Regions from separate parts of the Homo sapiens genome. Here regions 1, 3 and 4 are each linked to region 2. Evidence: fine-mapped expression QTL. A gene starts in region 2. Each other region holds a variant in brackets. All regions are shown on one strand. Distances are between the middles of the regions.

Region 1 (8,161 bases), 26 kb after region 2:
TTTGTTTGTTTTAAGAGACCCTTGTCACCCAAACTAGAGTGCAGTGGCGTGATCATAGCTCATTGCAGCCTCAACCTCCCAGGCTCAAGTGATCCTCTCACCTTAGCCTCTTGAGTAGCTAAGACTACAGGCACACACCACCACGACCAGCTAATTTTTTAATTTTTTGTAGAGATGGGGGATCTCACTTTGTTGCCTGGGCTTGTCGTGAACTCCTGGGCTCAAGTAATCCTCCAACCTTGGCCTCCCAAAGGGCTGGGATTACAGGCGTGAGCTACTGCACCTGGTGCTTTTTTAGTTCTTATTGAGACTTCTTAATCATTTTCTTTTACTTTTCAAAATGGAAGTGGGTTTTATCCTGATTATAATATTTATTAATTATAAAAAATTTCATCAACACCTGTGAAAAGGGGAAAATTTTTTTTTTGGTCAAAATAGCTATAAAGAAAGATAAAAGGCCGGGCGCAGTGGCTCACGCCTGTAATCTCAGCACTTTGGGAGGCCGAGGCAGGCAGATCATAAGGTCAAGAGATCAAGACTATCCTGGCTAACATGGTGAAACCCCGTCTGTACTAAAAATACAAAAATTAGCTGGGCATGGTGGCATGCGTCTGTAGTCCCAGCTACTGAGGAGGCTGAGACAGGAGAATTGCTTGGACCTGGGAGGCGGAGGTTGCAGTGAGCTGAGATCGCGCCACTGCACTCCAGCCTGGCGACAGAGCGAGACTCCATCTCAAAAAAGAAAGAAAGAAGGAAGGAAGGAAGGAAGGAAGGAAACAGCCCACCATGATCCATTCATTTTGAACTTTAATTTTATTTGATTATTTATTTATTTATTTATTTATTTATTTTTTTATTTTTTGAGACAGAGTTTTGTTCTTGTTGCCCAGGCTAGAGTGCAATGGCACCGTCTCGGCTCACTGCAACCTCCGCCTCCCGGGTTCAAGCGATTCTCCTGCCTCAGCCTCCCAAGTAGCTGGGATTACAGGCGCCTGCCACCACACCCGGCTAATTTTTTTATATTTTTAGTAAAGAAGGGGTTTCACCATGTTGGCCAGGCTGGTCTCAAACTCCTGACCTCAGGTGATCCGCCCGCCTCGGCCTCCCAAAGTGCTGGGATTACAGGTGTGAGCCGCCGCACTCAGCCCCATTTTGAACTTTTAATGAAACTTTAATCATAATCACAGTCCCCATAATTCTGTGATTTAGAAGTTTTTAAATAAAGCTTTAATGATTTAGGATTCTCCTTTCTGGAAAAGAAAAAAAGGCAGGCAAATTGCCCGTGGTACATTTAATTGAGTTTTTAGGGTTAAGTTTAAAGCAAATCATTTGTCCTGCTTGATAGTATCTCTTCAGTTTATTGACAAAGAGGTGTTTCTCTAAATACAAATTTAAGACAGGACATATGACCCTAATGAAATGTCAGTATAAGAACTTATCTAATTTAGGTCTTTAGGGATTTTTTTTTCTTTATTTGGTTACAAACTGAAAGATGTGAACTGAGCTCTTTATCACAGTCTCCAGAACCTTCTCTTTTCTCTGGGTTTGAAGATCTTGTCATCTCTAAAATGAACTGTGGGTTTTTTTCCCCAGATTTAAATAAATGTTGTGTGGTAAATGGAAAACTTTGTGGGTTTAGTGATTTTTTAAAAATCTGAGAAAGAAATTTAATTATCTGCAAAATATAGTTTTAAACCATGTGTTTTAAAGTACAGGCATACCTTGAAGACATTGCAAGTTTGGTTCTAAGCTTTATCGTAAATATTGCAATAAAGTGAGTCACACAAATTTTTTGGTTACCCAGGTCGTATAAAAGTTATCTTTCCATGGCTGGATATGGTGGCTCACACTTGTAATCCCAGTGCTTTGGGGCCCAGGCAGGAACATTGCTTGAGGCCAGGAGTTCGACACCAGCCCGGGGAACATAGTGAGATCCCATCTCTACAAAAAAATTTTTTTTTTAGTTAGCTCGGCTTGGTGGTGTGTACCTGTAGTCCTAGCTACTTTGGAAGGCTGAGTTTGTAGGATCACTCAAGCCCAGGAGTTCAAGGTTACAATGAGTTGTGATTGTGCCACTGAACTCCAGCCTGGGAGACAGAGTGAGACTCTGCCTCTAAACAACAACAAAACTTATCTTTCCACTATGCTGTAGACTATTAAGTGTGCAATAGCATTATGTCTAAAAAAATATATATAGATACCTTAATTTAAAAATACCTTATTGCTAAAAAATATGCTGGTGGTCATCTGAGCCTTCAGCAAGTTGTAATCTTTTTGCTGATGGCAAGTCTTGCCTTGATGTTGGTGGCTGCTGACTGATCAAAGTGGTGGTGTTTGTTGAAGGCTGGGATAGCTATGACAATTTCTTTATTTTTTTGAGACAGGGTCTCACTCTGTCACCCAGGCTGGAGTGCACTGGCAAGATCATGGCTTACTGTAGCCTCCACTTCTCAGGCTCACATGATCCTCCCACCTCAGCCTCCTGAGTAGCTACAACTACAAGCTCACATGACCATGTCTAGCTAATTTTTTCTAATTTTTTGTCGAGCTGGGGTTTTGCCACATTGCCCAGGCTGGTCTTGAACTCCTGGGCTCAAACGATCCACCCACCTCAGCCTCCCAACATGCTGGGATTACAGGCATGAGCCACTGTGTGGCAATTTCTTAAAATAAGACAATAATGAAGTTTGCCACATAAATTGACTCTTCTTATCACAAAATATTTTTCTGCAGCATGCAGTGCTTTTTGAAAGCATTTTACCACATTAGAACTTTTTTCAAAATTGGAGTCAATCCTCTGAAATCCTGCTGCTGCCTTGTCAACTAAGTTTACGTAATATTCTAAATTCTTTGTTATCATTTTAACAATATTTACAACGTGTCTACTAGGAGTGAGTTTTATTTCAAGAAACCACTTTCTTTGCTAATCCATAAGAAGAAATTCCTAATCCAAGTTTTATTTTGTGATTGAAGCAATTCAGTCACATCTTCAGGCTCCACTTCTAATTCTAGTTCTCTTGCTATTTCCACCATATCTGCAGTTCCTTCTTCCACTGAAATTTTGAATCCCTCCGAGTCATCCATGAGGGTTGGTGTCAACTTCTTCCAAACCTGTTACTGTTGATATTTCAACCTCTTTCCATGAATCACAAATGTTCTTAGTGGCATGTAGATCGGTGAATCCTTTCCAGAAAGTTTTCCGTTGACTTTGCCCAAATCCTTCAGAGCAATCACTGTCTATGACAGCTATAGCCTTACAAAACATGTTTTTCAAATAATAAGACTAGAAAGTCGAATTTACTCTTTTATCCATGGGCTTTAGAATGGATGTTGTGTTGGTAGACATGAAAACAACTTTCATCTCCTTATACATCTCCATAAGAGCTCTTGGGTGACTAAGTGCATTGTCACTGAGCAATAATATTTTGAAGAGTCTTTTTTTTGGAGCAGTAGGTCTCCACAGTGGGCTTGAAATATTCAGTAAACCATGCTGTAGACAGATGTGCTGTTAGCCAGGCTTTGTTCCATTGATAGAGCATAGGCAGAGGAGATTCAGCATAATTGTTAAGGACTCTAAGATTTTTGGAATGGTAAACGGGCATTGACTTCAATAAAGTCACCAGCTGTATTAGCCCATAACAAGAGAGTCAGCCTGTCCCTTGAAGTTTTGAAGTCAAGCATTGACTTCTCTCTAGCTATGAAAATTCTAGATGGCATCTTCTTCCAATAGAAGGGGCTGTTTTGTCTCCACGGAAAATCTGTTGCTTAGTGTAGCCACCTTCATCAGTGATCTTAGATCTTCTGGATAGCTTGCTGCAGCTTCTACATGAGTACTTGCTGCTTCACCTTGCACTTTTTTTGTTTTTTGTGTTGGTTCCACCAGTCTGTGCCCATAACCTCCCAGCAGCCTACATGTTGCACTTTTTA[A/ATT]TTTTTTTTTTTTTTTTTTTTTTTTTGAGACGGAGTCTCGCTCTGTGGCCCAGGTGGGAGTGCAGTGGCGCAATCTCGGCTCACTGCAAGCTCCGCCTCCCAGGTTCACGCCATTCTCCTGCCTCAGCCTCCCGAGTAGCTGGGACAACAGGCGCCCGCCACCACGCCCGGCTAATTTTTTTGTATTTTTAGTAGAGATGGGGTTTCACCGTGTTAGCCAGGATGGTCTCGATCTCCTGACCTCGTGATCCGCCCGCCTCGGCCTCCCAAAGTGCTGGGATTACAAGCGTGAGCCACCGCGCCCGGCCTAATTTTTTTTTTTAATACAGTGTCTCATTCTGTCATCCAGGCTGGAGTGTGGTGCTATGATCATAGTCCACTGGGGCCTCGAACTCCTGTGCTCAAGTAATCCTCCCATCTAGGCCTCCCAAGTAGCTAGGACTACAGGCATACCACCATACCTGGATCATTTTTAAATTTTTTGTAGAGATAGGATCTTGCTATGTTGCCCAGACTGGTCTCGAACGCCTGACCTCAAGTGATCCTCTTGCTTCAGCCTCCCAAAGTACTGTGATTACAGGTGTGAGCAACCATGACTGGCACCTTGCATTTTTATGTTATGGGGATTGCTTATTTTCTTAAACCTCTTGAGCCAAATTCTGCTGGCCTCCAACTTTTCTTCTACGGCTTCATCACCTCTGTCAGCCTTTGTGGAATTGAAGCATTCAGGTCTTGCTTTGGCTTAAGAGAATGTTGTGGCTGGTTTGATGTTTCATCCAGACCACCAAAACTTTCTTCATATCAGCAATAAGGCTATTTTGCTTTCTTATCATTTATTTGTTCACTGAAGTAGCACTTCTGATTTCTTTCGAGAACTTTGCATTTGCAAAGTTTGGTACCTAGCTTTTGGCCTATCTTAGCTTTTTTGTTTTGTTTTGTTTTGTTTTTTAAGGCGGGGAGACAGAGTCTCACTCTATCACCCAGGCTGGAGTGCAGCGGCATAATCTCAGTTCACTGCAACCTCTGCCTCCCAGGTTCAGTTGAGCAATCCTCATGCCTCAGCCTCCCGAGTAGCTGGGGATTACAGGCATGTGTCACCACACCGGCTAATTTTTAGTAGAGATGGGGTGTCGCCATGTTTCCCAGGCTGGTCTGGAACTTCTGGCCTCAAGTGATCCGCCTGCCTCGGCCTCCCAAAATGTTGGGATTACAGGCGTGAGCCACCATGCCCAGCCCTGTCTTAGCTTTTGACATGCCTTCCTCACTAAGCTCAGTGATTTCAAGCTTTTGATTTAAAGTGTAAGACCGGAGACTCTTCCTTTCACTTGAACACCTAGAGGCCATCGTAGAATTATTAATTGGCCTAATTTCAGTATTGTTGTGTCTCAGGTAATAGGGAGGCCTGAACAGAGGGAGAAAGATGGGGAAATGGCTGTTGGTGGAGCAATCAGAAGTCACACAACATTTATTGATTAAGTTTACTGTCTTACAGCAGCACGGTTTCTGGTGCCCTAAAACAATTACCATTCAGGTATGTCGGTGCAAGAATTCTGGCCAAAAATGTAAAGCTTCTAGAAAAATCAATGAATTCAGAATTTTAGGAAGGTTAAAAAGTTAAAAGGACAAGCAGGTCACTCCTAGCAGTGGCCTTCCCAATGTCAAATGTTTTCCTTATTTCTTCATTCTTTTTCTTTTATGTAACACTTGACTGAAATTCTACCAGCTGGGATCCAGGCTTTTTTATGAGATTTAGCTTGAAGCAGTGTACTTTCCTCCTAAAGCCTAGCTGAGTTTGGCTTTACAAGGAAATGAAAATTATGTGTGGCTATGGGTGTTTGGCTGCTGCTGTTTTAGAGTTGGGTTGGTGATTTTTCATAGAGAACGTTTTGAGGGGCTGATCTGAGGGGGGTGCTCAAATGGAAAGTTTTGTGTGGAGTAGTGTGCTAGAGACAGAGGGATAAAGTCACCTTTAGGAGGTTGAAACAAGGTGGGAGTGTGCAAAGGAGATACTTGACTTTTCTTGTGCTAAGGGCAAGAGAGTCTTATCTTTCTTACAGCGAGTGATCTTTTCTCTCTCAGATTCAGGTTGGCATTATTACTGTTATACTATAACCCATTGCATCATTTGGCTTGGAAACCAAGCCATTTTTAAATTAATTTTTATTTATGGGAAAAGTGTTGTGAGTTCTTTATAATCATCTACTAAGTGAATTTTTAGAAACAGTATTTGGAAGTGAGGTACGTCCCAGAGTGATACACTTTTAGTGTTATTTTTCTTAAAAGATTCTGCCTAGGATTTTTGATTTAGTTTTTCTATAGCTATTGCTTAAATGTATCGATTTTATTGCTTTTTCATTTGGTCTTCTTAGAGAATAGAATAATGTAAATAAGATACTAGATTAGAAACAGTAATACTGGTGCTGAAGACAGACAGCTTACTTCTGAAGGAAGAGAAAACTACCAGTGTGAAAGAGCAGCAGCTGAGATGTTGAGAATAAGGCCTCTGATCACCACTGAACCAAACTCCCGATCTTTATACACATGTATAGTCTTCCCTATCTCAGTAAATACAACTTTTTCCTTCTAGCTATTCAGGTCAAAAAGGTCAGAATCATCCTTGATTCCCCTCTTTCCTTCATATCCCCATTCTAATCTGCCAGCACTCCCTATTTTCCATCTCTGCTTTATTTTTCTCCATAGCACTTATCTGACATGCTACACACACACATACACACACACACACACACACACACACACACACACACACAGAGCTTTTACTATATATCTTTTCTCTGTATAGAGTGAAAGCACCACAAGGGTAGGGATTTTTAAATGCCTGTTTAGAACACTGTTGTATCCTCATAACTCAGAATAGTGCTTTACATAAAGATGCTCAATTTGTTGAATAAATGAATAATAGTTACCATTTACTGAATTCTTAGTGTCAGGCTAAGATCTTTGTGCTAGGATCTTTGTATCAGTTATCTCTAATTTTTTTTCTTCTTTTTTTTTTGTTAATCCATCTTTTTTTTTTTTTTTTTATTGATCATTCTTGGGTGTTTCTCGCAGAGGGGGATTTGGCAGGGTCATAGGACAATAGTGGAGGGAAGGTCAGCAGATAAACAAGTGAACAAAGGTCTCCGGTTTTCCTAGGCAGAGGACCCTGCGGCCCTCCGCAGTGTCTGTGTCCCTGGGTACTTGAGATTAGGGAGTGGTGATGACTCTCAACGAGCATGCTGCCTTCAAGCATCTGTTTAACAAAGCACATCTTGCACCGCCCTTAATCCATTCAACCCTGAGTGGACACAGCACATGTTTCAGAGAGCACAGGGTTGGGGATAAGGTCATAGATCAACAGCATCCCAAGGCAGAAGAATTTTTCTTAGTACAGAACAAAATGAAGTCTCCCATGTCTGCTTCTTTCTACACAGACACAGCAACAATCTGATTTCTCTATCTTTTCCCCACCTTTCCCCCTTTTCTATTCCACAAAACCGCCATCATCATCATGGCCCGTTCTCAATGAGCTGTTGGGTACACCTCCCAGACGGGATGGTGGCCGGGCAGAGGGGCTCCTCACTTCCCAGAAGGGGCGGCCAGGCAGAGGTGCCTCCCACCTCCCGGATGGGGCAGCGGCCGGGTGGAGGCGCCCCCCACCTCCCTCCCGGACGGGGCGGCTGGCCGGGCGGGGGCTGACCCCCCCACCTCCGCCTCCCTCCCAGACAGGGCGGCTGCCTGGCGGAGACGCTCCTCACTTCCCAGACGGGGCGGCTGCCGGGCGGAGGGGCTCCTCACTTCTCAGACGGGTCGGCCGGGCAGAGACGCTCCTCACCTCCCAGACGGGGTGGCGGCCGGGCAGAGGCGCTCCTCACATCCCAGACGGGGAGGCGGAGCAGAGGCGCTCCCCACATCTCAGACGGTGGGCGGCCGGACAGAGACTATCCTCATTTCCTAGACGGGATGGCGGCTGGGAAGAGGCGCTCCTCACTTCCCAGACTGGGCAGCCGGGCAGAGGGGCTCCTCGCATCCCAGACGATGGGCGGCCAGGCAGAGACGCTCCTCACTTCCCAGACGGGGTGGCGGCCGGGCAGAGGCTGTAATCTCGGCACTTTGGGAGGCCAAGGCAGGCGGCTGGGAGGTGGAGGTTGTAGCTAGCCGAGATCACGCCACTGCACTCCAGCCTGGGCAACATTGAGCACTGAGTGAGCGAGACTCCGTCTCAATCCCGGCACCT
Region 2 (8,161 bases):
GCTCTTGTCACCCAGGCTGCAGTATAGTGTCATGATCATAGCTCACTGCAGCCCCAAACTCCTAGACTGAAACAACCCTCCCTGCTTCAGCCTCTCGAGTAGCTAGGACTACAGTGGTGCACAACCACCCGGGCTAATTTTTTACTTTCTATTTTTGTAGAAACGGTGTTTCACTATGTTGCCCAGGCTGGTCTCAAACTCCTGGCCTCAAGCGATCTTCCCATCTCGGCCTCCCAAAGTGCTGGGGTTACATGAATGAGCCACCGAGCCTCCCAACACCACTACCCCCGACCACCCACCTTTTAAAAAGATGGGTGATATTAACAGCACGTTTGTGCTGGTGTAAATGATCCAGCAGAAGGAAAATCTGATGATGTAGGAAAGAAAGGAGGAGGCTGGAAGGAAGTCAGTGAATACAGGGAAAAGAATGCAATCTAGTGGTGGACTGGAGGGACTCTTAAATAGGAGCATGGACAGTTCATCTTTTTTTTTTTTTTTTTTTGAGACGGAGTCTCGCTCTGTCGCCCAGGCTGGAGTGCAGTGGCACAATCTCCGGCTCACTACAACCTCCGCCTCCCGGGTTCACGCCATTCTCCTGCCTCAGCCTCCTGAGTAGCTGGGACTACAGGCGCCCGCCACCGCACCCGTCTAATTTTTTGTATTTTTAGTAGAGACGGGGTTTCACTGCGGTCTCAGTCTCCTGACCTCGTGATCCGCCCGCCTCGGCCTCCCAAAGTGCTGGGATTACAGGCTTGAGCCACCGCGCCCGGCATCAGTTCATCATTTTAACAGTGAAGCCAGAGTGTATGGGCAACTAACTGTGGGGTTGTGGGGCTGAAAGAAATGTTAAGGGGGACAGGTGATGTTCTCCTCTGACTGCTTCTCCTTTTTTTTTGAGACTGAGTGTCGCTCGGTCGCCCAGGCCGGAGTGCAGTGGCACAATCTCGGGCTCACTGCAAGCTCCGCCTCTCGGGTTGAAGGTATTCTCCTGCCTCAACCTCTGGAGTAGCTGGGACTATAGGCGCCCGCCACCACTACCGGGTAATTTTTTTGTATTTTTAGTAGAGACGGGGTTTCACCGTGTTAGCCAGGATGGTCTCGATCTGCTGACCTCGTGATCCGCCCGCCTCGGCCTCCCAAAGTGCTGGGATTACAGGACTGAGCGACCGCGCCCGGCCGACTGCTTCTCCTTTCTTAATGAGATATATATTAAAATACAAGTTCATCAGCTTAAAGTAAGAAGCGGGTAGGACAGACTGCAGGTGTAGGAGATGAGAAGAATAGTGTAAAAGAGTGTTGCCTGGGTGCGGCGGCTCACGTCTGTAATAGCAACACTTTGGGAGGTGGAGGTAGGAAGACTGCCTGAGGCCAGGAATTCGAGACCAGCCCAGGCAACATAGCAAGACCTCATCTCCACTAAAAATAAAAAATTAGCCGGGTGTGGTGGCGTGTGCCTGTACTTCTAGCTGCTCAAGAGGCTGGGGTGGGAAGATCCCTTGAGCCCAGGAAATCGAGGTTGCAGCAATACTTCACTGCGCCGCTGCACTCCAGCCTGGGCAACACAGGGAGATCCTGTATCGGAAAAAAAAAAGTGTATTTAGGAAAACACAGATTGGCAGTTTGGGAGATGAAAATTGAATGTAGGAGAATGAACGTCCAGGAAAACACGGTAGACATGACCAAAACACCTTCTTTAGATTAGTGGACTTGTATTAAAAGTGAGATAACTCGGCGGGGCGCGGTGACTCACGTCTGTAATTCCAGCACTTTGGGAGGCCGAGGTGGGCGAATCACAAGGTCAGGAGTTTGAGACCAGCCTGGCCAATATGGCGAAACCCCGTCTCTACTAGAAATACAAAAATTAACCGGCCGTGGTTGCGCGCGCTTATAGTTCCAGCTACTCCAGAGGCTGAGGCAGAAGAACCGCTTGAACCCGGGAGGCAGAGGTTGCAGTGAGCGGAGATGCTGCCACTGCACTCCAGCCAGCCTGGGCGACAGAGCAAGAGACTCCGTCTCAAAAAAAAAAGTGAGACAACTCACCAAGGTTCTGTTTTTCTCCAGCCACTTTCAACAGCCCTTAGTGCGGGTGTGGAATAGGAAAGGTAGATTTAACGAGGTTAGTTAATAAGCAATGTGAAGGAGAAAAATAAAAGGAAAAATGGATTATGAAATATAAAATGGATTACGAGGGAAGCAAAAAGCGTGACAGTAAAAAGGCAGGAGGACAATTATAGGTCCTGGTGGGGTTCAGGCGTTGTTGGAGCCGGGGTTCCAAGTTATTCTTCACAAGTTTAGATTAAGACCATGGAAGTCAGTGACTAAAGCTAAGTTTTTCGTTCCTCTAGATTCTGCCCCAGGAAAGTTTGGGTCAAACCTATCGGGATCCTTAAACCACATTCCACTCCGCCTCCTTTGTCGGGAGGTTTCACAGAAGCGGAAAAGGCGGCTCCCCCTTGCTCCTCCTCCCCACCTCCCCCCTACCTCTAGGAGTTTAGGGCCGGGCCATCCCAACGGGCTGCCCCTCCCAAAACTCACTGTTTGGACAGGTGTTGGGCGTCGCTAGGCGCCGACGAAGAACTTCTTTCCAGTCCATGGCCGACTTCCGCGCAGCAGCTTCTGCATTTGCTGTTTCCTACCTGCTCCACCCCTACCAGCTCAGGCGTCAGCACCGCCAGGCCCCGTAAAGGTTAGGAAGGCCGTCCAACCACCATCTTGATCGAGGGCGGAAGTCTTGGCTAAAGAGGCAAAAACAATTACTGTCACTGCCGCGGAGAATACCGCTACCACGCTGACTGGGGGAAAAAACTATGAAAGAGATGGAAAATGGTTCTCCTTCAGAGGCGACCCAAGCTCACCAAGCCGGATTTTAAAGGCCACGATAAGCCCGCGTTTTCCTTTATCGTGTGCCTTTGGCGCGTGCGCACCACGTGACCCAGGAGTTCATTAGTTCCGGCTTGAGGGAAGCGCCTTCTTTCACAATTTCTTTTCATTGTTCATTGCGGATATCTGGAAGCCTTCCAGGTCCCCTGAATGTAGTAGACACTTCAGCAGCCGTCTCCTACCCCTTTTGCCACTAAATGCTTCAAAACTGCCTTTTTTCCTCGCCGCCGGGCCAGGCGGAACGCCTAAGTCCGGGTCAGTCTCGTCCGTCGGTCGGGGCTGGCGCGGTGCATCGTGGGCACTGTAGTTTCCGCCGCGTTTATGGCCGCGTTAAGTCTGAGTGCCGCTTTGAGTTGTTGAATGAAGTGAACTTCATTTGTCAGCGTTCGGTACGCAGTCTAGGCAGCGCCCTTCCTGTACCTCTCTTCCTTTCCTGAGTCGTTGGCGCAGCTGACTCGCCACCTCCTCCCTCCTCGTCCCCCCACCGGAGGAGTTTTGCGGTCTGTAGAGAGCTATGCAGGGTGAGGGCCCCTAGACTTCGGCTTTCGCCGCTGTTGGTGGTAGGCTGGAGTTGGGGGTCCCTGGATACGGTTTTGGCTTTACACCCCCTTTCCAGCAAGCTTCCCGTGGGAATCTGTTCCTTTTCAGGACAGCTGTGATCCACGTGAGTAAAACTGGGCGTTCCGTCTTGTGCTTTTTCCTCAGGTTCATGAACTGGAATGTAAGAGGCACCAGAGGATTCCTGCTCTGTCCCCTGGTTTGCGGCTTGCGACGTTGGACATCCCCGGATTGTTGTTTAATAGAGAAAACTCACCTGCCTTCTTGCTTTTAAGTAGCCCCAAAAGCAGAACCTTGATTTGTCTGTAAGGAAGAAACACAAACCTTTTAAAAAGTTCCACTTCGACTCTGCACCGCCGACCCCCAATCTCTTTAATTTTGCCATAGAAGAGGGGTTTTTTCAACATCTCTCTCACTATCTGGTGCTGATCTCACTGCATAATGACTTTCTATTTGTTTGGTATTCGAAGCTTTCCGAAGCTTTGGAAGAGCCCATACCTTGGGCTAGGCCCAGGGCACTCTTATGTCTCGCTGTTTCTGGCAGACCGCTGTGGCATCAGGAACCAGCAGAGGTTGTTTTCTCTTAAAACAATGTCTCCACAGAATACCAAAGCAACGAATCTGATTGCCAAGGCCAGATATCTCAGGAAAGATGAGGGCAGTAATAAGCAAGTTTATTCTGTTCCTCATTTTTTTTTAGCTGGAGCAGCTAAGGAGAGATCACAGATGAATTCTCAAACTGAAGATCATGCCTTGGCACCTGTGAGGAACACTATTCAACTCCCAACACAACCTTTGAATTCAGAGGAGTGGGATAAACTTAAGGAAGATTTAAAAGAAAACACCGGAAAGACCAGTTTCGAAAGTTGGATCATTTCACAGATGGCTGGCTGTCATAGCTCTATAGATGTGGCTAAATCTCTGCTGGCATGGGTAGCAGCCAAAAATAATGGTATTGTAAGTTACGATTTACTGGTCAAGTATTTGTATCTCTGTGTCTTTCATATGCAGACATCTGAAGTTATTGATGTCTTTGAAATTATGAAAGCCAGATATAAGACTTTAGAACCTAGAGGTTACAGTCTTCTCATCCGGGGATTGATCCATTCAGACAGATGGAGAGAAGCATTGTTGCTGTTAGAGGACATCAAAAAAGTTATAACTCCTTCAAAAAAGAACTATAATGACTGTATCCAGGGAGCTCTCCTTCATCAAGATGTAAACACAGCTTGGAATTTATATCAGGAATTGCTAGGTCATGATATTGTTCCTATGTTGGAAACTTTAAAAGCTTTCTTTGATTTTGGAAAAGACATAAAGGATGATAACTATTCAAATAAACTACTAGATATTCTTTCATATCTAAGAAATAATCAGCTGTATCCAGGGGAGTCATTTGCACACAGTATAAAAACATGGTTTGAGAGGTAATTTTGGTTTTTTTATATGTATGTTTTTATTCTTTAATTTTTTTTTTTTTTGAGACAGGGTCTTGCTCTGTTGCCCAGACTGGAGTGCAGTGGTGTGTTCATAGCTCACTGTAACCTCAAACTCCTGGCCTCAAGTGATCCTCTCGCTTCAGTCTCCTCAGTAGCTAAAACCACAGGCATGTGCCACCATACCTGGCTAATTATTTTTAATTTAATAACTTTAAACCTCAAAGTAGCCATTCTTTTTTGTTGTTAGTTGCTGAGAATCACTCTTCTGATTATACTTTTTTCCATCTCTTAGTAAGATTTATTTTCTCTTTACGACAAAATTTTCTCTCTTTAAAAAAAGTAACAACATACATAATTTGTGCTAATCTTTACCCATCACATAAAACTGAAATTATATAGCAGTTTTAATTTTTACATTTTTTTCCTTTTGGAAGGATCATTAATTTTGTTTTCTTAGGCATCTAGTATGATGTGAGTACTTAATACTACTTATGGCCACTGTTCATAGCAAGAAAAGAATATAGCATTTGACTAGAACTGTCTCTGGCCATATTAGTATTTTCAGAAGTTCCTCTGAAATCTAGCGACTGAGATAATATGCTTATATTTATTCTGTCTACTCTCTCCCTTTTTTTTTTTTTTGAGACGGAGTTTTGCTCTTGTTGCCAGGCTAGAGTGCAATGGCATGATCTCGGCTCATTGTAACCTTTGCCTCCCGGGTTTTCTCCTGCCTCACACTCCCGAGTAGCTGGGATTACAGGCATGCGCCACCATGCCCTGCTAATTTTCTATTTTCTTTTTAGTAGAGACGGGGTTTCTCTATGTTGGTCAGGCTGCTCTCGAACTACCTCAGGTGATCCGCCTGCCTCGGCCTCCCAAAGTGCTGGGATTACAGGCGTGAACCACCGCGTCCGGCCTATTCTGTCTACTATCTATAGTTCATCAACTTGGATGATTAGAGTGGACAGGGGGATATTGATCAAGCCTTATACGTAAGCATTACAATGGAAAATCTTAACCCTTCCAGTTTGTTTTGGACCTTTCTATCATTTGGCTGCTGTCTCTCTAAAGCTCTCTCCTTTGGTTTGCTTTTGCTTTATTCATGTTACTGGGTACATACCTGTTTATTGCTTTAGTCTTTTTTAAAATTTTTGAAAATTTTTACTTATTTTTTAAAATTAATATTCTTTTTTTAAGAGGTGGGGTCTTGCTGTGTTGACCAGGCTGGACTCAAACTCTTGGCCTCAAGCGATCAGGTGTGAGCCACCATGCTTAGTCATTATTTCTTCATTAATTTGCTTCCTAAAAATTTGTTCCTTCCCTCTGTTTTTCTCTTGCCTTTTTTTCCCCTATATCATGTTTACGGAGCTTTGAAGCAGTAATTATGCTTAATTATCTTAAACTTACTGAAGATCAAGGGAGGAGGAGCCCATTTGTGAAAATCTTTGAATACCAAGGAGTTTGGATTTTATTCTGTTATCAAGAATGCTGGATTTGGCTGGGTGCTGTGGCTCACGCCTGTAATCTGAGCACTTTTAGAGACTGAGGTGGGAGGATAGCTTGAGGCCAGGAGTTGGAGACCAGCCTGGGCATGGTGAAACCCTGTCTCTACAAATAATACAAAAATTAGCTTGGCATGGCGGTGTGTGCCGGTAGTCCTAGCTACTTGGGAGGCTGAAGCAAGAGGATCACTTGAATCTAGGGAGTCAATCAAGGCTGCAGGGAGCTGTGATGGCGCCATGCACTCCAACCTGGGCGACAGAGCAAGACCTTGTCTCAAAAGAAAAAAATAATGCTGGAATGGAGTTTTACAAAGGCAGTTGCCAAGTGAGAAGAGTAGATAGGAGAGGGATTAAGATTGAAAACAGGGAGATCTGCGTGAATACAATTTTAGGTTTAGGTGAGAGATGATGAGAATTAAGAACTGAGGAAGGAGAGAAGGCAGTAGAATCATAAGAACTGATGGTAATATGTGGAAGGGGAAGGAGGAAAGGATACATTGATTGAACAAATACATCAATACATAGTTTTTGAATGCTTCCAAATAGGCTAGGCATTGCGAGTGTTTTATAAAATCTATTATGACATTCTCAATTTAATTGGGAATACAGTACCACACAGTGAAATAACAGTGGTGTGTAAGAGGTAAATTACTCTCGGCAGGAGCAATTTCTGGCAGCTTTATGGAGAAGGTAAGAGTTGAGTTTGGTTTAGAGGTTATGCTACTAAGGTCAGCCGCTTTTGGTAGACTTGAAGATGAGAGTTATTTGTTGGGAGGAGAACCACAGGGAAGAAGGAGATCCAGAGCAGAGTACCAGCAGCTTCTTAACCCCATCCAGGATAGCAGCCACTTTTTAAATTAAACCATTCTACAGAAGTATCTTGAACTTTTCGGACTTCTTGCTTATAAGAGTTTCCAAATACCATGAATATCTTTCATTTCAGTAGGAATCTAACCTTCTCATGATTTGGTTTTGCAATCTTTTCATAGTGTTCCTGGAAAACAATGGAAAGGACAATTCACCACAGTCCGAAAAAGGTGAAGACCAATGTTTATTTTTAACTTGTTTGATTTTGGTTTAGTAGGTTTTGTTGCTATTAATTGAAAAATATTTAAGAACACCTTAAGGGTAGGATAATTACAAGTTTGTAATTAGAGTATCTGAGGAAAAAAACATACTTTGCATACAGAGACTTAGCAGTGCCCAAAATGTTTTTCCTGTGAGTACTGTGAACCTATATGAAGTCTTAGAGATGTTTTTTCCCTAGAGGTTCCAGACCCAGTTGTGTTTTAGGATTTATTTATTTATTTAATTCACCAATATGATATTCCAGAGGATAGGAATTACTTTAAAAATGTCATCTGAGCTGGGCGCGGTGGCTCACGCCTGTAATCCCAGCACTTTGGGAGGCCGAGGCAGGCAGATCACGAGGTCAGGAGATTCGAGACCATCCTGGCCAACATGTTGAAACCAAGTCTCCACTAAAAATACAAGACCCTGTCTCAAAAAAAAAAAAGTCATCCAAACGGCCAATCTACTTTTTTGGGTTTTCTGGCACACTAATTTGTGATATTATCAGGTTTACAAAAAATTAGATGTATGTGATTATCACAAAGGTTTTAATGTTCTTTTTTATTACCTTTTAATTTCCTCATTGTTCATTTCACAAATTTTTTTCCCCAGAACATTATTCGACATATTTAAATATTATTATTTAACAATTATAATTACAGTGGCCAGTGTTCGGGCTGTGGAAAAACCATAGAGTCTATTCAGCTGAGT
Region 3 (8,161 bases), 200 kb after region 2:
AAAATACATGTTCAGGGCCACACATGGTGGCTCACACCTGTAATCCCAGCACTTTGGGAGGCCAAAGTGGACAGATCACTTGAGGTCAGGAGTTTGAGACCAGCCTGGCCAACATGGTGAAACCCCATCTCTACTAAAAATACAAAAATTAGCCAGATGTGGTGGTGGACGCCTGTAATCCCAGCTGCTTGGGAGGCTGAGGCAGGAGAATTGCTTGAGCCTGGGAGGCGGAGGTTGCAGTGAGCCAAGATTGTGCCACTGCACTCCAGCCTGGGCGACAGGGTCAGACTCCATCTCAAAAAAAAAAAAAAAAAAGAGAAAGGAAATATATGTTCAACATGGAGCACTCTCTGGCTGGTAGACTATTCATAGAATTATAACTTTATTTTCATGAACTTCTGAATCTGAACACTTTAATATGCTTAAAATTTCTTCATGAATTTTTATCTTTGAGCTGACATAAATTTCAGTTATACTACATATAAATGTATTTTGACGGCTGGGCAAGGTGGCTCACGCCTGTAATCCCAGCACTTTGGGAGGCTGAGGCAGGCGGGTCACGAGGTCAGGAGTTCCAGACCAGCCTGTCCAATATGGTGAAACCCCATCTCTACTAAAAATAGAAAAATTAGCTGGGCATAGTGGCACATGCCTGTAGTCCCAGCTACTCAGGAGGCTGAGGCAGAAGAATCGTTTGAACCTGGGAGGCAGAGCTTGCAGTGAGCCGAGATCACGCCACTGCACTCCAGCCTGGGTGACAGAGCAAGACTCTGTCTCAAAAAAAATAAAAAATAAATGCATTTTGACATAGAAGCTAAATAGAATACTTTATAGTTTAGCTTTATTTATGTTATTCAATTGAAATATTTTCTATCTTAGCTGCAACTAAAGAATTTTATTTTCAAGATACAATTCTAAATCTGATGTCAAAGTAAACATTTTTGTGTATAGGTGAAGGTGGTATAATATCTGGGAATTCCTTCAAAATAATCTGAGGGAAGATAAGTGTGTGTATAGATTTTTTAAAGATTGGTTTATAAATTGATAATTGTTAAAGTAGGTTGATAGGTATATGGGAGTTTATTATACTATCCCACTTTTACGTGTGTTTGAAAAAATTTTTTTTAAATCGTTGTTTTTTTCCCCCTTTTGCCTTCTAGGATTCTTACAGAAGCAGAGATTGATGCTCACCTTGTTGCTCTAGCAGAGAGAGACTAAACATTGTCGTTAGTTTACCAGATCCGTGATGCCACTTACCTGTGTGTTTGGTAACAACAAACCAACATCATGGAGGTCCCTGGATTGAAAAAGGAGCCTCTCCCACTCCTCCTACCACCGAAGTGGTTAGGACTCTATATAAATAAAAACAAGGCTTTTGGAAAATAATTGCATCCTGTTGTTTTCACCTCCTATTTTAAAATTTATTTTTGACACCTAATGTACATATTTATGGGGTGCAATGTGATGTTTCGATACATGTATACATTATAATGATCAAATTAGGGTGATTAGCATATCCATCACCTGAAACACGGTGTTTTTGTGGTGAGAACATTTAAAATCCTCTCCTCTAGCTATTTTGAGGTACACAATACCTTATTAGTTTTTTGTTTTTTAAAACAAGATCTTGCTCTATTGCCCAAGCTAGAGTGCAGTGCCATGATTATGGCTCACTGCAGCCTTGAACTCCCTTGTTAAGTAATCCTCTCACCTCAGCCTCCTTAGTAGCTGGTACTACAGGTGTACACCATTGTACCCAGCTAATTTTATTATTTTTTTGTAGAGTTGGGGTCTTACTATGTTGCGTGGGCTGGTCTCAGACTCCTGGCTAGCATTAAGCGATCCTTCTGCCTCAGTCTCCCAACATGCTGGGGTTACAGGCATGAGCCACAGTGCCTGGGTCCACAGTACCTTACTGTTGACTGTAGTCACTCTGCTGTGCAATAGGATACCAAATCTTACTCCTTTTTTCTCTTTTTTGAGACAGGTACTTGATCTCACCCAGGCTGGAGTGCAGTGGCAGGCGTGCTCATAGCTCACTGCAACCTTAAATACCTGGGGTTAAGCAGTCCTCCCACCTTAGCCTCCCAAGTAGCTAAGACTACAGACATGCATCACCAGGCCTGGCTAATTTTTTATCTTTTAAAATATTGACATAGGGGTCTCCCTATGTCACCCAGGCTAGTCTTAAACTCCTGGCCTCGAACAGTCCTATCTCAGGCTCCCAAAGTGCTGGGATTACAGGTGTAAGTCACTGCACTGGGCCCCTCCTGTCTAATTGTAACTTTTTAGCTGTTCACCACCTTCTCCCCATCCCTCCCACTACCACCTCCAGTCCCTGGTAACCACTGTTCTATGTACTATTCACTACTTATAGATCAACGTTTTTAGACTTGGCATGTAAGTGAAAATGTGGCATTTGTCTTTCTGTATCTGGCTTATTTTCACTTAATGTATTGTCCTCTAGGTTCATTCATGTTATAAATAACAGGATTTCATTCTTTTTAATAGCTGAATAGTGTTCCTTTGTGTATATATATCACATTTTCTTTATCCATTCATTCACTTTGAACACTTAAGTCAGTTATATCTTGGCTATTGTGTATAGTCCTGCAATAAACATGGGATTGCAGATACCTCTTCAACATACGGATTTCACTTCCTTTGAATACATACCAAGGAGTGCAGTTGTTGGGTCATAGAGTAATTCTGTTTAATTTTTTTAGGAACGTTCATACTGTTTTCCATAATGGCTGTACTCATGTACATTTCCCTTAATTGTAAGGGTTCCCTTTTCTCTGCATCCTCAACACTTCTTATGTTTTGTCTTTTTGATAATAGTTATTCTAACTAGTGAGGTGATGTCTCATTGTGGTTTGCCTCCAATTTTAAGTATTAAGCCTTTGGTATATGCAGACAAATATTCACCATCTTCACATTGTAGCTTTAGTCATTTTGTTGACACTGGTACAAGTTTACTTGGCTTAAGACATTTCATAGCCAGCACCAGGCGTGCTGGCTCACACCTGTAACCCCAACACTTCGGGAGGCTTAGCCGGGCAGATCACTTGAGCTCAGGAGTTCAAGACCAGCCTGGGCAACAAGGTGAAACCCTGTCTCTACCAAAAATATAAAAACTTAGCATGCACATCTGTGGTCCCAGCTACTTAGGACACTGAGGAGGGAGAATTGCTTGAGCTCGGGGGATAGAGGTTGCAGTAAGCAGAGATTGTGCCACTGCACTCCAGCCTGGGTGACAGAAATGCCATCTTAAAAAAAAAAAAAAAAGCCAGAAATGTAAACTAGCTATATGGTATAATTAAATAACAAACTACAACTTTGGTTTTGAAACCCACTCTGGCCGGGCGCTGTGGCTCACACCTATAATCCCAGCACTTTGGGAGGCTGAAGTGAGAGGATTGCTTGAGGCCGGGAGTTTGTGATGAGCCTGGACTACATAGCAAGACCTCGTCTCTACAAAAAATTTTTAATTAGCTGGGCATGGTAGCCTGCACCTGTAGTCCCAGCTACTCAGGAGGCTAAGGCAAGAGGATCACTTGAGCCCAGGAGTCTGATGCTGCAGTGAGTTGTGATTGTGCCACTGCACTTAAGCTTGGGTGACAGAGTAAGACCCGGTCTCCAAAAAGAAATCCACCCTGACCGTAAGTTGGCATGTGAGGAAAGGCCTTTATTTTACAATTTCTCATTCAAACAAGATACTACTGAATGTGGACTCCAAGTCCCACTGAATGCTTTAACTATAATAAAAGGATTAGTATGATCTTCCATAGTTTTGAGAAAAGCATTTATACTCATTAAGAACCAGTATTTTCAAGGGTAGAAATTTTAGTTACCTTCAGGAAACAGGGCTAGAAAAGTCATAGAATGTGTGTAGTTTCTGTGCCTCCTTAATAATAAGTACTTGAAGATAACATTAAGGAATTGGTTTATATTAAAGTTTAGAGACCCAGCATCACAATGTTCAGGAAGAAAGAACAAACTGTATATTCATGGTAACTTTTTTTTTTTTTTGAGACAGAGTCTTGCTCTATCGTCCAGGCTAGAGTGCAGTGGCGTGATCTTGGCTCACTGCAACTTCCACCTCCCGGGATCAAGTGACTCTACTGCCTCAGCCTCCTGAGTAGCTGGGATTACAGGCACCTGGCACCATGCCCGGCT[AATT/A]ATTATTATTATTATTATTATTTTTGTATTTTTAGTAGAGACGGGGTTTCACCATGTTGGCCAGGCTGGTCTCGAACTCCTGACCTCGTGATCCACCTGGCTCGGCCTCCCAAAGTGCTGGGATTACAGCTGTAAGCCACCGCACTCAGCTGTAGCCTATGTTTTTTTTAATGTACAGGATTTTTTAAAGTCCCTAGACTGGTGACCTGAACCACTAATTAGAGATGATTAAAAAATCTTGGAAAGTCTAAGGGTAATACATTTTGTGTCCTCTTTTGCACAGAGGAAGTCTGGTGCTGTTGACCTCATGCAGGTGAGTGTGGCTGCTGGTCTCATGCCAGTCCCTGAAATTAGAGTTGCCCCTGTTTCTGCAGCCACCAGGGCCACACAAGGGGAGGCCACATAAACATATGACCAGTAGAAGCAGGAAACTTCACCAACCACATCCTCTTCAGAGCTGTCAGGAATAGTAAAATTTCCTAACAAGGAAGCAGGGTTCTTCCTTGTTCTTCCAGGTTGTTCTAGGATTACCCATCCTAATCCACTAGGCTCTTTGAAAGTGCTGCCATCGTTTCGAAAGTGGGGTCTATGTAAAAGGGCTAATCCTCTAAAGACAAGCTGAATTTCCACACCCTTAGAGCCTTGACTGATGTCACCCTCCTAGAATCAGTGGATGAGAGACTAGCAACTAATTCAGTTTTACTGTTAGGGGCTCCTTTTCAGAGGTGAAAAACTAAAATTCTGTAATTTGTTAGAAAGTAAGTTTTTACATTATAAGGCAAAATCTAGATGAATTAGGATTAAATATAGAATAGTTTTAAATATTGGTTGTTTATGCTTAATTAAAAGAATGAGAAGAAATAGATCATTTTAAATAGGTGAACATTAGGCTGGGTACAGTAGCTCATGCCTATAGTCCCCAATACACTGGGAGCCCAAGACCAGTGTGGCAACATTTTGTCTCTACAGAAAAATTTAAAATTAGGTCAATTGTGGTGGTGCACACACACCTGGAGTCCTAGCTACTTGGGAGGCTTAAGTGGGAGGGTCACTTGAGCCCAGGAATTCAAGGCTGTAGTAAACTATGATCACAACACTGTACTCCAGGCTGGGTGGCAAAGCAAGACCCTTTCTCTAATAATGAAAATAAAAGGGTGGACATTAAATACTCTAATTCTGGCTGGGCGCAGTGGCTCATGCCTGTAATCCCAGCACTTTGGGAGGCTGAGGCAGGCAGATCACCTGAGATCGGGAGTTCAAAAGCAGCCTGACCAACATGGCGAAACCCTGTCTATACTAAAAAAAAATTAGCCGGGCATGGTGGCACATGCCTGTAATCCCAGCTACTCGGGAGGCTGAGGCAGGAGAATCGCTTGAACCTGGGAGGTGGAGGTTGCAGTGAGCCAAGATCATGCCATTGCACCCCAGCCTGGGCAACAAGAGTGAAACTCTGTCTCAATCAATCTGTTTCTTGTTTTGTTTTCTAAACAAACTACCTGGAATGGATAACAAAGGGTTAATGCAGAAAGGTTATACAAAATGCCAAGAAAAATGCCTGAAATCTTTAAATATCTTTACTCAAAGAACATTTTGATTAGTAAGAAATACACATACCAGGCACAGTGGCTCACGCCTGTAATCCCAGCACTTTGGGAGGCCCAGGCAGGCGGATCACTTCAGGTCAGGAGTTCAAGACCAGCCTGGCCAACATGGCGAAACCCAGTATCTACAAAAATACAAAAATTAGCCAGATGTGGTGGCGTGCACCTGTAATTCCAGCTACTCAGGAGGCTGCGGCAGGAGAATCACTTGAACCCGGGAGGCCAAGGTTGCAGTGAGCTGAGATCGGACCACTGTACTCCAGCCTGGGCAACAGAGTGAGACTCCATCTAAAAATCAATCAATAAATATAAGAATACAGATATGAGGCCAAACACAGTGGCTTATGCCTGTAATCCTGGCACTGGGAGGCCAAGGGGGGTGGATCACTTGAGGTCAGAAGCTCGAGACCAGCCTGGCCAACTTGGTAAAACCCCATCTCTACTAAAAAATACAAAAATTAGCTGGGCATGGGGGCGCACACCTGTAGTCCCAGCTACTTAGGGGGCTGAGGCAGGAGAATCGTTTGAACCCGGGAGGCAGAGGTTGCAGTGAGCCGAGATCCCGCCACTGCACTTCAGCCTAGGCAAGAGAGCTAGACTGTCTCAAAAAAAAATACAGATATGATTTTTTAAATATGAGAAATATAATAATTCTGACACTCAGAGGATATGTCCAGACATTCATGAACGTGAAGCTATTTGGGTAGACATGAGGCTTTCCTTCTCTTGATACCTCATTTTTCATAAGCAGTTACTGTACCATTTAGGTTACAAGTCAGCAACAAACCAGGTACTCAGCTCCCTCACTAGCCTCCAAATCCAAGATCCAGATTTGTGACACAACCAAATTATTACATTAAGGATCTTCACGTAGGGGCACACACCTGTAGTCTAGCTACTCAGGAGGCTGAGGTGAGAGGATCACTTGAGCCCAAGAGGTCGAGGCTATAGTAAGCTGTGGTCACGCCACTGCACTCCAGTCTGGGGGACAGAATGAGACACCTGTCTCAAAAAAACAAACAAAAATCTAAAATGACAGCTAAGCTAATTAACATCATAATGGTGAATTAGTTTAAATTTTTTTATTTTTATTTATTTTTATTCTTTGAGACGGAGTCTCCTTCTGTCACCCAGGTTGGAGTGGAGGGGCACGATCTCGGCTCGCTGCAACCTCCGCTCCCAGGTTCAAGTGATTCTCTTGCCTCAGCCTCCTGAGTAGCTGGGATTACAGGCGCGTGCCACCACGCCCAGCTAATTTTTGTATTTTTAATAGAGACGAGGTTTCACCATGTTGGTCAGGCTGGTCTCCAACTCCTAACCTCGTGATCCACCTGCCTCGGCCTCCCAAAGTTCTGGGATTACAGGCGTGAGCCACCACGCCAAGCCTGTTTTATTTTTGTAGAGGCAGGGTCTCGCCATGTTGCCCAGACTGGTGTCCAACTCCTGGGCTCAAGCCATCCTCCTGCCTCAGCTTCCCAGTGTTGGAATTACAGGCGGGATTACAGCCACCATACCTGGCTCCAAGATGGCTTCTAACTCCATTTATTTTACATTCTGGAAATTCCAGCTGATACAATAAGAAATGAAATTAAGAGGTATTGGAATGGAGATAGAATTATAATCTACTATTTAGATTATTTACCTAAAAAAATAAGAAAGTGACCTAATAAAGTATTAGTCTTTATTGGGACAGGCCCTGTTTTAGATACAATATCCTTTAAACTGGTTTAAGTTGAACATTTATAATTTGCTTGTCTACAGTTCCAAAATTCAGGAAGTTCTTAAAACTCAACTGGCTTTTTATATCTCACTTTATTTCTGCAGAAATATGAATGTGCTTAATTATAGGGTGCTGCCCCAGACTCCAGTGGTAGAGTTATGGAATATATGGTTTAGACATCATATTACCACTCTAAAATCCAAAATACATTATATTCCGAACGCATCTGTGCCAGGCGTGGTGGCTCATGCTTATAATCCTCGCTGGGGAGGCCGAGGTGGGCAGATTGCCTGAGCTCAGGAGTTCGAGACCAGCTTGGGTAACATAGCAAAACCCCGTCTCTATTAAAAATACAAAAAAAAATTAGGCGTGGTGGCGCACGCCTGTAGTCCCAGGTACTCGGGAGGCTGAGGCACAAGAATCGCTTGAACCTGGGAGGCAGAGGTTGCAGTGAGCCAAGATTGCACCACTGCACTCCAGCCTGGGCCACAGAGTGAGACTCTGTTTAAAAAGAAAGAAAGAAAGAAAAGAACCTGGCCCCATGCCTTTTGGATAAAGAATAATAGACTTATACTATTATTATTCCCCTGTTGCGGGTAAAAACAAACAAACAAAAACGAAAACAAAAACTGAGTCCAAGTTAAGTAATTTGGCCAGG
Region 4 (8,161 bases), 140 kb after region 2:
ATTATATTATATTAATTTGACTGCAAAGACCTTGAGGTTAGAGATAACTGTGTTTGGTTGTTTTTTTGTTTTTTTGAGATGGAGTCTCACTTTGTCTCCCAGGCTGGAGTGCAGTGGCGTGATCTCGGCTCACTGCAACCTCTGTCTCCTGGGTTCGAGCAATTCTCCTGCCTCAGCCTCCCAAGTAGCTGGGACTACAAGCATGTGCCACCACGCCTGGCTAATTTTTTTGTATTTTTAGTAGAGACGGGGTTTCACCATGTTGGTCAGGCTGGTCTCGAACTCCTGACCTCAAATGATCCACCCGCCTTGGCCTCCCAAAGTGCTGGGATTACAGGCATGAGCCACCACACCCGGCTGGAATAACTGTTTTTTTATATCTGTATTCCAAGTACCACATGCCTAGTGACTTACAGAGGAGGTTCTTCTTAATCTTTGATAAATGAACTGGCCTTTTCAATTCATCAGGACCATTATATTTTATTTTATCAAGAGATAGGGTTTTGCTGTGTTGCCCAGGCTACACTTGAACTGCTGGGCTCAAGCAATCCTCCTACCTCAGCATCCCAGGTAGCTGGGACTACATGCATGTACCACCAAACACAGCCTCTAGATTCAACTACCAGTTTGCAAGAAGCATAGAAGACTGGAGACTATGTTACATGATACCATAGGGATGCAATCGGTAAAATCTAAATGGAGGAAATTCTCTATGAACAATCATATGCCTTAGACTATAAGGGAGAAAAGATAAATAGATAAAGAGCTTATACAGAGTCTTAAGAGAGATACCAGGCAATTTCAATGTATGGGAATTTTTTAGATCCTTATTCAAAAAACAATTGTGACTCAGAAATATGAGTCATTTATGTTACATTTATGTTACATAAATTTTATATTAAATATATTTTACAACAAGAAAAGATTTTATCAGGCTGGGCGCAGTGGTTCACGCCTGTAATCCCAGCACTTTGGGAGGCCAAGGAGGGCGGATCACGAGGTCAGGAGTTTGAGACCAGCCTGGCCAACATGGTGAAACCCCATCTCTACTAAAAATACAAAAATTAGTTGGGCGTGGTGGCAGGCACCTGTAATCCCAGATGCTCGGGAGGCTGAGGCAGGAGAATCGCTTAAGCCCAGGAGGCGGAGGCTGCAGTGAGCTGAGATTGCACCACCGTACTCCAGCCTGGGTGACAGAGCGAGACTCTGTCTCAAAATCTCAAAAAAAAAAAAAGAAAAAAGAAATTGTGCGTATCTTTTTTTTTTTTTTTTTTTTTTTAAGACAGAGTCTTGCTCTGTCGCCCAGGCTGGAGTTCAGTGGTGCAATCTCAGCTCACTGCAGCCTCCGCCTCCTGGGCTTAAGCGATTCTCCTGCCTCAGCCTCCTGAGCATCTGCGATTACAGGCGCCTGCCACCACGCCCAACTAATTTTTGTATTTTTAGTAGAGATGGGGCTTCACCATGTTGGTCAGTCTGGTCTCGAACTCCTGACCTCGTGATCCGCCCACCTTGGCCTCCCAAAGTGCTGGGACTACAGGCGTGAGCCACTGCGCCTGGCCCTGTGCTTATCTTTTAAAGCATTCTTATATTTAGAAATGCATTCCAACATATTTACAGGTGAAATGATATGTCTGGGATTTGTTTCAAAATAATCCGAGAGAAGGAAGTGAATTGGTATATAGATGAAATTGGATTGGCCGTGAGCTGATAATTATTGCAGCTGAGCGATGGGTACATGGCAGTTCATTATGCTATTCTGCCTGCTTTTGTTTATATTTAAAATTTTTATGATAAAATCCTTTTTTTTTTTTTTCTTTTTTGAGACCGAGTCTCGCTCTGTTGCCCAGGCTAGAGTATAGTGGCACCATCTCAGCTCACTGCAACCTCCTCCTCCTAGGTTCAAGCGATTCTCCTGCCTCGGCCTCCCAAGTAGCTGGGACTACAGGCGCTTGCCACCATACCCAGCTAAGTTTTTTGTATTTTTAGTAGGGACTGGGTTCTACCATGTTAACCAGGCTGGTCTCAAACTCCTGACCTCAAGTGATTTGCCCGCCTCAGCCTCCCAAAGTGCTGGCATTACAGGCATGAGCCACTGTGTCTGGCCTGATAAAATCTTTTATTGTTGTAAAATATATTAACATAAAATTTACCATTTTAACCATTTTTCAGTATACAGTTCAGTGGCATTAAGTACTTCATGTTGTCGTGCAACTGTTGCCACCATTCATCTCCAGACTTTTCTCATCTTCCCAAACTGAAACTCTGTATCCGTTAAACAATAGCTCCTCATTCTCCTCTCCCTGCTGCCCTGACAACCACCATTCTATGCTGTCTTTATGAATTTGACTACTTTAGGTAACTTATGTAAGTGCAATCATTCAGTATTTGTCCTTTAGTGTCTGGCTTTTTTCACTTAGTTTTCAAGTTCATCCATGTTGTAGCATGTATTAGAATTTCATTCCTGTTTAAGGCTGAATAATAATCTATTATATGTATATACCACATTTTATCGATCTATTCATCTTCCAGAAATTGACATTTGGGTTGCTTCCAAAACAGTTTTTAAGTTCTTTCCTGGAGGTATCCCATAATGAATGTTCTTATAAATGAGGTATATTGATGATAGTTATCTTGCTGAGGAACAGACGAAGAATTTCTAATTTCTGAAGACATCAGATCCCAAAGGCTTTAGAGTTTCTGAACAGCTACAATCCATAAAACCTCAGGAAGTGCCATAGACTGCAGAGGAGGAGGTAAAAAGGTATAAGCACAGGGAAAGGAAGTTAACATTTGCTGTTTAGGATTACTGAGAAAAACTCTTGCTCTCATTGGCCTCTCTTACCTCCCAGGCAGCTTTTCTATTTCCGGAGCATCCCTACACAGTTATTTCTAACCCATGTAGCCCTGCCAACTATATTTTTACCCTAAGCTCAGGAACTACTTTTCATCAGTTTTATGCCAAAAGTTGATGTGTCACATATGAGTAAAAAAAAAAAAAATCTCTTATCTCCTCCTACTGGAGATAAGCCAAATTAGGGCAGAAGCCAAACCAGAAAAATTCAAACCAAATATTAATCTGAAATATGTTTGTTTGTTCATTTGTTTGAGACAGGGTCTCACCATGTTGCCCAGGCTGGTCTCGAACTCCTGAGTTCAAGAGATCCTCCCACCTCAGCCTCTCAAAGCACTGGGATTACAGG[C/T]ATGAGCCACCGCACCTGGCAAAATATGTTTTTATTCTTCTGATTTTTAGAGAATTATCCTTAATCATCTTGAGAAAAAACAGTAGACAGAAAATTAAAATTTAACCCCGATGGTAATCAGAATAAAGAAAATGCAGTGGCAAAAGGAGACGTATTTCAAGGAAAAATAATTTTGTGAAAAGGAAAGGTGAAATAGTAGGAAATATTGGAAACAGAAACCCCAAATCAGAAGAGAGAAAAAAAAGAATTCTAAGATGATAAGTCTGACTTGAGTAAGCCTCCATCTTCCCATTCCAGAAGTCTGGGCCAAGTGTACTCCTTATCAGTAAGGGAAAGTATCACTAAGGAGGACCCGTGATGTTGTGTGGGATGGGGCAGGCAGGGTGTGGGGGCGGGGCAGAGATACCGTATTTTAGGTTAAGCCTGAGGTATTGGGTACTCAGGAGGTATTAGTTCTGGGATCAGTTTGGAATTTTAGATGTGCTCTAGAATGAACCGCGTATTGTTTATTTTGTTGTGCTATGTAGTCCAGACTCCAGAATGTATCCTTCCGGTATTATCACACAGTTTTGATTACCATAGCTGTATAAGAAGGACTAAAATGAGGTTAACTGATTTTTCTGCTTCATTCTTTCTTTTCAAAATTGTTTTAGCTATTCTACTTCCTTTGCCTTTACTGTCTATAGCCTTCCAATTCATGAACCTGGACGATGGTGTTGAGTTCTTCTATATGCTTGCTGATTTTCTGTCCAGTTATCTCAATTGTTGAGAGAGGAGTGTTGAGGTTTCCAACTGTAGTTGTAGATTTGGCTATTTCTCCTCCTGGTTCTGTCAGCTTTTGCTTTCACATATTTTGCAGCTCTGTTGTTTGGTACACACATTTAAGATTGCTATGTTTTCTTAGATTGACCCTGTTACCATTATATAACGTCTTTTGTGTCTCTGGTAATTTTCTCTGCTCTGAAGTCTATTTTATTTAATATTAATATAGCCACTCCAGCTTTCCTTTCATTGTTTGCATGCTATATAACTTTTTCCATCCCTCTACTTTCCACCAGTCTATTTGATTATATTTGAAGTGAGTTTTTTTTTAGATAGCATATAGTTGGGTCATGTTTTTTAATCCATTCTGCCAGCCTCTGTCTTTTAATTGGTATATGTAGACTTTTTATACCTCATACTGTTATTGATATGTTAGGGCTTATATTTGCCATTTATTTTTTCTTTTCTGTGTTTTGTCTCTGTTTTACTTTTCCTCCCTTCCTATGGACTATTGAACTTTTTTAGAATTCCGTTTTTATTTCTTTATAATGGCTTTTTAAAATCTATAGTGTTTTTTTCTGGGTGCAGTGGTTCACACCTGTAATTCCAGCACTTTGGGAGGCTGAGGTGGGTGGATCATTTGAGGTCAGGAATTCAAAACCAGCCTGGCCAACATGGTGAAAATCGGGCTTTACTAAAAATACAAAAAAAAATTAGCCAGGCATGGTGCCGTGCACCTGTAATCCAAGCTACTCAGGAGGCTGAGGCAGGAAAATTGCTTGAACCCGGGAGGCGGAAGTTGCAGTGAGCCGAGATCAGACTACTGCACTCCAGCCTGGCGGACAGCGAGATTCTGTCTCAAAAAATAAATAAAATAAAATAAAATCTATAGTGTTTTTGAGTGTATCTTTTTGTATAGCATTTTTAGTGATCACTGCAGGTGTTTTGGAGGTTTTTCGGGTTTTTTTTTTTTTTTTTTTTTTGGTGGGAGCTTTTCCAGATAGGGTTTCACTCTGTTGCGCAGGCTGGAGTGCAGTGGCACTATCATAGCTCACTGCAGCATTGATCTACTGGGCCCAAGGGATCCTCCCACTTCAGCCTCCAGAGTAGCTGGGACCACAGGCACACACCACCATCCCCAACTAATGTTTTTTATTTTTAGTAGAGACAAAATCTTGCTTTGTTTCCCAGGCTGGTCTCAAACTCCTGAACTCAAGCTGAGGCAGAAATTAAAGAAAGAAAGAAAAAATAAAATTAAAAAAGAGAAATAAACTTTCCTGTATTAGGCTGACTTGACCCAGAGGCAGCAACAGGCACAGGCCAGACCCAAGAAAAGTCTTGATAATACTATCTAATGTGCCCTGAAGACTCTCCCAGTACTCCCTCAACATAAGGAAGAGAAAAACAAATTTTCCTTTGTCTTATAGTATAAGTTTATAGATTCCTGTTCTCTGTAACTAGTAACTTCAAGTATTCTGTTTTACCTAAACAGTACAGTGAAAGTCATGAGACATCTGAGCAGGCCTAAGCTATAGCCACCTAGGTGCCATAGTGAATGTCACAGAATAAGCCGTGCTAGGCACTAAGGCAAACCTAGATAACAGCCATCTAGATTGCATAGCAACAGTCATGTGTAATCCTGAGTTATGCACCTATCACAGTTTGATTAACTGTCTTTGTTCTGCCTCTGTATTCTTGCTTTCGCACCACCATAAGTTTGTTTCAGGCTAGCCCACCCCCTTTTTGAAGGGTATTTAACAGTCAAGTGCTGTCTTTGTTCTTAGCCCAGTTTTTTAGATGTTAAGTCTGCTAGGTCTGAGTGCACTCAATAAAGATCCTCCTGCTTTACCCCGAAGTCTGTCTAGTCCTCCTGATTTCTGCAACAAAGCGATCCATCCAACTTGACCTCCCAAAGTGCTAGGATTACAGGTATGAACTACCACACCCAGCCAACTCTATTTGTTTTATACATACACAGACTCACACACATACACAGCATCATAATCTACTGATGTTATTTTACCAAGTTTTCTGAGTAAGACTGCCTCTTTCCTGGTCTTTGGCTAGAGAGAACAAGCCTTTGTTGGGTTTTTTTGTCTGCACACATTGGCATTTCTAGGTTGACAGCTTCTTCAGCTCCAATTCTGAGATCTATGTGGCAAAAAGAAAACCCAGGGAACTCACCACCATGTCAGTCCTTGTGTACTGAGGTCCCCAGCCAGTTTGCCATTTTTCCCTCTACCTTTCCAAGTCTTCTTATGTTTATTTTATATATAATGTCCAAGGTTTTTAGTTGCACTTAGTGGGAGACATAGGGAGAAGTACATCTACTCCATTTTCCCTCCTGGTTTTACTTTTGATCTAACATAGAATCTTAAGTTGAATTTTCTGTCTTTTTAAAAAAATTATTCCAAGTAGCCAGGCGCGGTGGCTCACGCCTGTAATCCCAGCACTTTGGGAGGCCAAGGCGGGCAGATCACGAGGTCAGGAGTTTGAGACCAGCCCGACCAACATGGCGAAACCCTGTCTCTACTGAAAATACAAAAATTAGCTGGGCGTTGTGGCGGGTGCCTGTAATCACAGCTACTCAGGAGATTGAGGCAGGAGAATCACTTGAACCCAGGAGGCGGAGGTTGCAGTGAGCCAAGATTGTGCCATTGCACTCCAGCCTGGGTAACAGAGCGAGACTCTGTCTCAAAAAAAAAACAAACAAACTATTCCAAGTATACCTATGACACTGATTCAGACCACTGGATCCAGCCTTCGAATTTACCCGAGAGGAAGTGGGTTCATGGCTGGACTGTCATGGAGTTTCAGGCCAGGGCTTTTATGCTGCACACTCATCTTTTTCCCTGTGTCTTTCAATTATTCTCCTTTGTTTTCATTGTTTTCAGAGAGCTGCTTCTAGTAGAGACTTCTCAGCCACAAGATGGTGCCCCAGAATAGTTCAAGATAGGCTTTTCTGCTCTTCTTTGGGCCCCAGTCTTTAATGTACTATTAGTAAACTCAAGGCCATTTATCTGAACCAGGATATAGCTATGAAGACACAACTGTATTATCTTAAGCCATGTTTTCCCAGTTGCCTGAAAACTTAAGCAATCAGTATCAGAAATAGTTTTTGTTTGAATTTTTTTTATAATTTTATTATTATTATTATTATTTAGAGATGGGGTCTTGCTGTGTTGCCCAGGCTGGTCCCGAACTCCTGGCCTCAAGCAGTCCTCCTGCCTCAGCATCCCAAAGTGCTGGGATTACAGGCCTGAGCCACCAGACCCAGCCTATGTCTTTTGAGCTATTTGAATCCATGAATCAAAGTTTACTAGTGTAGATGTTTGCCTTTTATTACTAGCCCAACTTTTAAAATAGCTTATAAGATTATGTTTAAAAATACATAGAATAACTTTCTTTGCCATGTCTACTGAGAGAACGAAGACCATTCTCAGCAACCAGACTGTCAACATTCCAGAAAATGGTGACATTACTCTGAAGGGACACACAGTTACTGTGAAAGGCCCCAGAGGAACCCTGCAGAGGGATTTCAATCACATCAGTGTAGATTCAGTCTTCTTGGAAAGAAAGAAAAGAGGCTCCAGGTTGATAAATGGTGGGGAAACTGAAAGGAACTGGCTGCCGTTCAGACTATTTGTAGTCATGTACAGAACATGATCAAGGGTGTTACACTGGGCTTCCATTACAGGATGAGGTCTGTGTATGCTCACTTCCCCATCAATGTCGTTATCCAGGAGAATGGGTCTCTTGTTGAAATCTGAAATTTCTTGGGTGAAAAATACATCCTCAGGGTTCGGATGAGAACAGGTGTTGCTTGTTCAGTATCTCAAGCCCAGAAAGATGAATTAATCCTTGAAGGTAATGACATTGAGCTTGTTTCCAATTTAGAGGCTTTGATTCAGCAAGCCACGACAGTTAAAAACAAGGATATCAGGAAATTTTTGGATGGTATCTATGTCTCTGAAAAAGGAACTGTTCAGCCGGCTGATGAATAAGATCTAAGAGTTGTCCAGCTTCTGAAACAAGATGCCGGATGATTCCTAAGACCTATTTGTGATGTTTAAATGATGCAAAAGACCTATTGATTTGGAAAGAAAAATAAAATAAAAATACATAGGACAGAAAGACTGGTAAATAGACATTAACAATCTTTGGGTAGTGAGCTGTGAGTCATTTGTTCTTTCATTTTT

Alleles and levels. Alleles are on the strand shown, and positions count from the first base shown. SD is a standard deviation of normalised expression in the study named. Not every link is listed here.
For the expression in monocytes after LPS of the gene that starts at base 3,186 in region 2, ATT is the high allele of the variant in region 1 and A is the other (large effect, 1.0 SD a copy in Fairfax 2014).

What was found. PIP is the estimated chance that this variant, and not a neighbour inherited with it, causes the effect.
Region 1: its variant is fine-mapped to the expression of PRORP in monocytes after LPS (Fairfax 2014, PIP 0.94).
Region 3: its variant is fine-mapped to the expression of PRORP in whole blood (INTERVAL, PIP 0.97).
Region 4: its variant is fine-mapped to the expression of PRORP in whole blood (TOPMed, PIP above 0.99).

Annotation. Positions count from the first base shown.
Region 1 is chr14:35,144,984-35,153,144 of GRCh38, forward strand. All of the region lies in intron 4 of PRORP (protein only RNase P catalytic subunit), which reads left to right. All of the region lies in intron 4 of PRORP-PSMA6 (PRORP-PSMA6 readthrough), which reads left to right. Among named protein-coding and RNA genes, the nearest start is that of PRORP, 27 kb to the left of the region's middle. RefSeq lists an enhancer at 7,902-8,161. The variant A/ATT (reference allele first, on the strand shown) is at 3,928.
Region 2 is chr14:35,119,367-35,127,527 of GRCh38, forward strand. PRORP (protein only RNase P catalytic subunit) reads left to right here and starts at 3,186. Exons shown (of 8, transcript NM_014672.4): 1 at 3,186-3,269; 2 at 3,586-4,865; 3 at 7,369-7,416; 4 at 8,113-8,161. The coding sequence starts at 3,880. It overlaps PPP2R3C (protein phosphatase 2 regulatory subunit B''gamma), which reads right to left and starts at 2,624. Exons shown (of 13, transcript NM_017917.4): 1 at 2,536-2,624. The coding sequence starts at 2,593. PRORP-PSMA6 (PRORP-PSMA6 readthrough) reads left to right here and starts at 2,473. Exons shown (of 15, transcript NR_182666.1): 1 at 2,473-2,686; 2 at 3,586-4,865; 3 at 7,369-7,416; 4 at 8,113-8,161. RefSeq lists enhancers at 1,828-3,027, 2,247-3,166, 2,410-2,539, 3,080-3,159, 3,167-4,086 and 1 more.
Region 3 is chr14:35,316,089-35,324,249 of GRCh38, forward strand. It overlaps PSMA6 (proteasome 20S subunit alpha 6), which reads left to right. Exons shown (of 7, transcript NM_002791.3): 7 at 1,161-1,405. The coding sequence ends at 1,218. PRORP-PSMA6 (PRORP-PSMA6 readthrough) reads left to right here. Exons shown (of 15, transcript NR_182666.1): 15 at 1,161-1,383. Among named protein-coding and RNA genes, the nearest start is that of PSMA6, 28 kb to the left of the region's middle. The variant AATT/A (reference allele first, on the strand shown) is at 4,180.
Region 4 is chr14:35,255,071-35,263,231 of GRCh38, forward strand. The region is part of intron 5 of PRORP (protein only RNase P catalytic subunit); the gene reads left to right. All of the region lies in intron 5 of PRORP-PSMA6 (PRORP-PSMA6 readthrough), which reads left to right. It also overlaps the pseudogene RPL9P3. Among named protein-coding and RNA genes, the nearest start is that of PSMA6, 33 kb to the right of the region's middle. The variant C/T (reference allele first, on the strand shown) is at 3,201.